Linked DNA regions of Homo sapiens: region 2 is linked to region 1. The links come from fine-mapping of genetic effects on gene expression. A gene starts in region 1. The other region holds a variant in brackets. All regions are shown on one strand. Distances are between the middles of the regions.

Region 1 (2,922 bases):
CTGGAACTATTAAGCTTTCCCTGCCATTGTCTATAGGAACTGGCCATAAAGAAATTCTCTAATCTACCTTGCCTGATAGTAGGTCGCTAAGACCCTCATTCCAGAAGGGACCTTCCTCCTCCGTAGGAGGAAGAAATGATACACAGAGAGGCCAAGAAGAATCTGAACAAACAGACCTTGCTGGGCTTCCTTCCTCAGTTTATTAACATTAGAGTATATCCTTTGTCCAGTCACATTTTTACACAGTTGTCTATTCTTCATGGGTCCTACGCATAAAAATAGAGATCTCCCTGGTCTCTGAAGTGCCTGGTGGTGTAAAACTTTGATTAGATTTGCTCTGCTTTTACCTTGTTAACCTATCTTCTGTTTTAAGGAGTGGTGGCTGTGATCCTTACAATGGGTGGTGAGGAAAGGTACTAAAGTTTTCGGCCCCTACGTTGCACTTTAAATAAATAAATGTATAAAAGCAAAGTAGACAAAGACACATGAAGTCATAATGAAAATACCAGAGTCAGCCAAGGAAGAAGGCAGACTTGCAGTTGAAATGCTCCAGATCACTTTGTCCACCGAACGAAAACATCTAAGAACATACAGTCCATACTCCAAGTTTTAAACGACTGTCCACCAAGAAGGGAAAAGGAGAACTGATGGCTCCTCTTAGGCCCATTCAAGACAAGGGGGTCCCAATTCCCTTGCTTTAGACTGGTGGGACTGGCAGGTAAACCTGAGGCAAATGACTGACTACAGGTTCCAAGGCCAGTTACTCCAATTAGAAAGCAAAACACAAAGTTTCAAAAAACAGTGAAGGCAGTCGGGAGGCTGAGGCACGACAATCGCTTTAACCCGGGAGACGGAGGTTGCGGTGGGCCGAGATCACGCCACTGCACTCCAGCCTGGACAACAGTGCGAGACTCCGTCTCAAAAACAACAACAACAACAAATGGTGAAGGGATGAGGCTGAAACATCACGGGAAGTAAAATAAATAATTGTAACAAGAAAACAATAAAGCATTGGAGAATCCACCCAGGCACTTCCACTGCTTAAAAAGGTACAGACTACAGAAGCCAAAAGGCCCGGGAACTCCGGTCCCGGAACTCAACACCCAGACTGAAGCGAGCGCGGGGAAGCAGTTCCGGTGACCCCCTCCCGCCCCTCTCTCATCAACCCCGCCCCCTGGGCCCGCCCCGTCCCGCCCGGCTACTCACTGGATTCGCTTCCCACATAACGGTGACAAAATCGAGCGGAGAGAGCCTGTGGGAAGGGGCTAGCCGCGGGGCCTGGGTGTTGGATTTTTTTTTTTCCCGCGGGTCCCCGGGAGCGAAGGGACGGAGATGCAACCTTTACGAAGGCCTTCCTCCTCCCCCTCCCTGTCACAAGCCAGCGTTTACAGACCACCCAACCTCCCGACTTCCGCCCGACGTTGGCCAGTCAGATCTGTCTCCGCCCCACTCCTACAAGCTCGCCCCGCCCCTGCACGCTTATCCATACGCGCGCGGGCGGTCGTCCTGGGCGGGGCTTGCGAGTCTGTGTCTGACGAAGGAGTTTAAAGGGTTTCTGGTCCAACTGTATCACCCAGTGATCTTAAAGCCACGGCTGGCTGTATTTCTTTCCTATGAAACAAATTTTTATTGATCACCGTGTAACGACCAAGAGTCACACAGGCCTGGCAATGGCATTTGGGAGAAACTTCATAATCTTTCAATATCTTCATCCTCAAAATGGAGATGGTAGTAATATCTCCCTATGAGTGAGATTATTGAAAGCATTTAGCACAGTATTTGGCACACAGAGTTCAATAAGTGACGGTTATTTGCTCACAAGGGAACCTTTACATACTATCCCTGCCCTCAAGATTTTATAATCTAGAAAAGAAAGCAAAAAGTAGTTTAGAAAAGTTAAAAAGTGCAATATGATTTATAGGTAATATGGTGAATAGAGAGTGCTATGCGAGCATATTTACCTAGAGTAGAGTGTCAGGAAAGCTCCCTCAAGATGTTTAAAACCATGAGGATGTATTCCTACTGATGTAAAGAGAGCTAACAGAGTGAAATAATCTTCCATGCAACAAAGGATCTACCCCATAGGAAATGAAAATTAAACAGCTCATTATAGATCCTTCTGGACTTTTCTATGCCTCTACACATTGAAAAAAATGTAATCAAAGAATACCTATAGATTTAGAACCTGATTTTTTTTTCACTTTAAAGATTATGTGGCTATCCTTCCATTCCATTAAGTTTAAATCTGTTTCATCATTTTATTTATTTATTTAGGCAGAACCTCGCTCTGTCGCCCAGGCTGGAGCGCAGTGGCGCCATTTTGGCTCACTGCAACCTCCGCCTCCCGAGTTCAAGCGATTCCCGTGCCTCAGGCTCCTGAGTAGCTGGGATTACAGATGTGCGCCACCACGTCCCGCGAATTTTTGTATTTTTAGTAGAGACAGGTTTTCGCCATGTTGGCCAGGCCAGTCTCGAACTCCTGACCCCAGGTGATCCACCTGCCTTGGCCTCCCAAAGTGCTGGGATTACAGGTGTGAGCCATCTTGCACCCGGCCATATTTTAAAGTAGACTCATGGCATTCCATAACTTATGCGTATACTACGTACACACAAATAGACACACACATTTGAAATAATCTACTGAATAGACGTTTGAGTGGTTTTCTATTTTTCACTATCCCAAAAAAATCCTTCAACAGGCATTTCTTCACATTTGTCCATTTACTTCTTGGAATTAATTCCTGGAAATAAAATAGTTTACTAAGAGATTATTTTTGCCAAATGGTTGACCAGTTGCCCCCATGTCATTTAGTGAATATTCTTTCCTCACTACTTTGAAGTGCCACTGTTAATTACAACCTAAATTTGCATATACATATACATAGGTATACATACACGTATATATCTGTTTCTGAACATTCT
Region 2 (2,922 bases), 29 kb before region 1:
ATTAACTGTGTCTTAGCAATGTTGTATATAGTTCTTTTAATATTCATAAGGTATATTTTTGAATTTTGGTATTTGTTGAGATTGCACAGAAGTATAGTAGGAAATCCAATGAAATGGCTGTTTCCACCAAGAATTCTTAGCACTGGTGTAAATATCATGGTGCCTACTCGAAAGAAATGTAGATGCTACGCATTTTGAAAATAATCTGCATCAGTCAGAACTGCAGAAGTTTTCTAAATGCCACTTTAACACTAATGCACTGACAGATTCTAAATATTTTGTGAGAAGAAATGTTAAAAATTTTTAGCTTGACAGGTTTCTAGAGTTACTGTGTGTGTATTTTTTTTCCCCTTGCACCATTGGTTATGTATCACTTTCACTTTACACTTGCATGTTCTCCTTGTCAGGGCTGGAACTATCGTATAGAAGATAATATGATTGTGACTTCTAGTTCTTTTCTAGAGGATGCTGCTAGAAAATGGTTTTGCTTTGTATTTTATAGCTTGTTACCCTTAGGTAGGTAACATCTTCCATTCTGCTTTCTTCCAGTCTTTGCAGTATTCACTAGAGGTTCCCTTTGCATGTTGTACTCTGTCCTCATTTGGAGATTGAACTCTGAATTAACACAGTATTCATTCATCTGTGTTATTTTGTAAAAATAACTGTAGCTTATATTCCTTATTTGTACATACCAATGTGAAAATCCACTCTTTTATTATGTTGAGATTATCTTCTGATCAGGAAGTTTGAGTGCTATGCAAATAACATAGTAGTAATTTCTCTTTGCATACCATGTGTAATACACCTAGCCAAAACCAGATGCGGTGACTTTCTTTTTTTGTAAAGCAAATTACTTAAGAAAATACAATTCACTTGAATTTGACAAACTGAAACAGATGAGTTTTCTGGGTTCTCTGATAACCTATGGGAATGTTTGGATGCCAGCTGGGCTCAGTGAATCGCCACTGTACTGTAATAATGGTTATTTACCTCTGTGCTGTTTTAATTACCTAACGTCCGTGTAACTGCTGATTTGAGTAGTGATTAGCATTTAGATAATGTAACAGGATTTTAGAGAGCACTTTGAAAGATAACATTTTATTATGATGGTGCTAGGTAAAAAATTGTAAAGACTGGGATGGTTGTGTGGAAAACATTTTTTGAGAGAATCTATTGAAAGGAATTTGTTGTCACCTTCTAAACTAGAATAGTTGTTGAAGGTACCGCTTAAGCCATTTCTTTCTTAACACTGGTGGCTCAGTTAAGGAATGAGAAGATAGAGGGTCCTCCACTTTCAGCTTATGCTTTTTTTTGTAGGACTAGCTTACCTGATTTTAATGAAAATCACATTTTGATAGAAACACCAGATTTGAAAGTTCAATGTGTTTGATCTCAGGAGTCCAAAATAAGTTGTTGCTGCATTTTATTGACTGGGGTTTTATCTCAGCTTCTGAAAATGTTTAAAAATTGGAAGGAAATACTATTCATATCTTCATTGTCACTTTGTCTTACCTCAATTGAGTAACAGAATATATAGCTCCTGAAGGAAACACTGATTTGCTTTCTGTTTCCCATATCTCACCTCTAGGATATGATGGAAGAAGTGCTTGAAAGAGAATTTTAGCAGA[T/C]GGTACTTTTCTCAGTGACCTCCGGAATAAAAGAACTGACTTTTGATAGTTTTAAAATTAATCTTTGCATGAAGGTTGGTTTCGCTTTTATCCTTTAAGTTTGTTTTTAAATGTATTAATTAGTCCACGGGATTTTGCCTTATGCTGAGGTCAAACTAAGGCTAAGCAAGCTTTTGTCCTTCATTTTAACTGTTTATGTCATACTGTATGTTGACATATTTCTTTATAAGAGAATAGAGGCAAAAGTATAGAACTGAGGATCATTTGCATTTTTGAGTTGGAAATTATGAAACTTCACCATATTATGATCATACATATTTTGAAGAACAGACTGACCAAAGCTCACCTGTTTTTTGTGTTAGGTGCTTTGGCTGAACTTTATTCCAGCCCCCTTTTCCCTTTGGTGTTGTGTATGTCTCTTCATTTCCTCTCAAATAAATCTTCAACTCTTGCCCCATGTCTCCTTGGCAGCAGGATGCTGGCATCTGTGTAGTCCTCATACTGTTTACTGATAACCCACAAATTCATTTTCATGGCAGACCTAAGCTCAGACCCTGCCTTGTCCTGGCAAGAGTAGGTTTCCCAGACCACAATGCCGATATATCTTATTTAATGCAGACTGTATTCTTGCAGTGTGTTGTTTCCTTTGTGACTCAAGGTTGAATTAAAATGCCTGTGAACTGCAAACTTGCTTATGATTGACTTGGTGCAATAAAGTTCCTTTCTAACCATTTCTGGTTTAGAAAACATTCAGCCATCCTAGAAACTAGCAATATTTATTTTGGCCTCTTTTGTTTTACCCTTCATTTTTAGATGAGGTAAATGTTTTGTCTTTTACTTAAGGATACTAAGCAAGGTCCACTCTAGTGTAGCTGAAGAGAATACGTATTTGGCTACACTATTTCTGTGTACTGTGTTTTGCTTCCTACTTTATGTCTAAATGCTATTGTTTTTGTTTAGAATCCTAATAATGTCTCATTTCCAATATGTTATTTTCAAATAACTAAGGTTTTGCTACTAGTGTCAGCCATTTACTCTCCCACTAATTGGGATTATTTTTTAAAAGAGGTCTTTCTCCCCGAAATACAAGTTTTAGAAAATCTTAGAAGAGGAGTGGGTGCATGTCTTAATGCTGGGAAGCAGCAACTTTGGGGTTGAACTTACTTGAATGGATTAAAAATTGCATTGTGTTACAGAGCTGAAAATTTTGTGTATGAAAAACGATAATAGCCTTACACTGAGTACAAATAATACTTTAAGAGCATGTGAAGATGTGATCATTTGTGATGTTACT

What was found. PIP is the estimated chance that this variant, and not a neighbour inherited with it, causes the effect.
Region 2: its variant is fine-mapped to the expression of PARP11 in whole blood (TOPMed, PIP above 0.99).

What each region holds. Positions count from the first base shown.
Region 1 is chr12:3,872,006-3,874,927 of GRCh38, forward strand. It overlaps PARP11 (poly(ADP-ribose) polymerase family member 11), which reads right to left and starts at 1,394. Exons shown (of 8, transcript NM_020367.6): 1 at 1,207-1,394. The coding sequence starts at 1,224. All of the region lies in intron 1 of PARP11-AS1 (PARP11 antisense RNA 1), which reads left to right. RefSeq lists a silencer at 1,062-1,171 and enhancers at 1,843-2,363, 2,364-2,883.
Region 2 is chr12:3,843,124-3,846,045 of GRCh38, forward strand. The region is part of intron 1 of PARP11 (poly(ADP-ribose) polymerase family member 11); the gene reads right to left. It also overlaps the pseudogene OTUD4P1. Among named protein-coding and RNA genes, the nearest start is that of PARP11-AS1, 26 kb to the right of the region's middle. The variant T/C (reference allele first, on the strand shown) is at 1,629.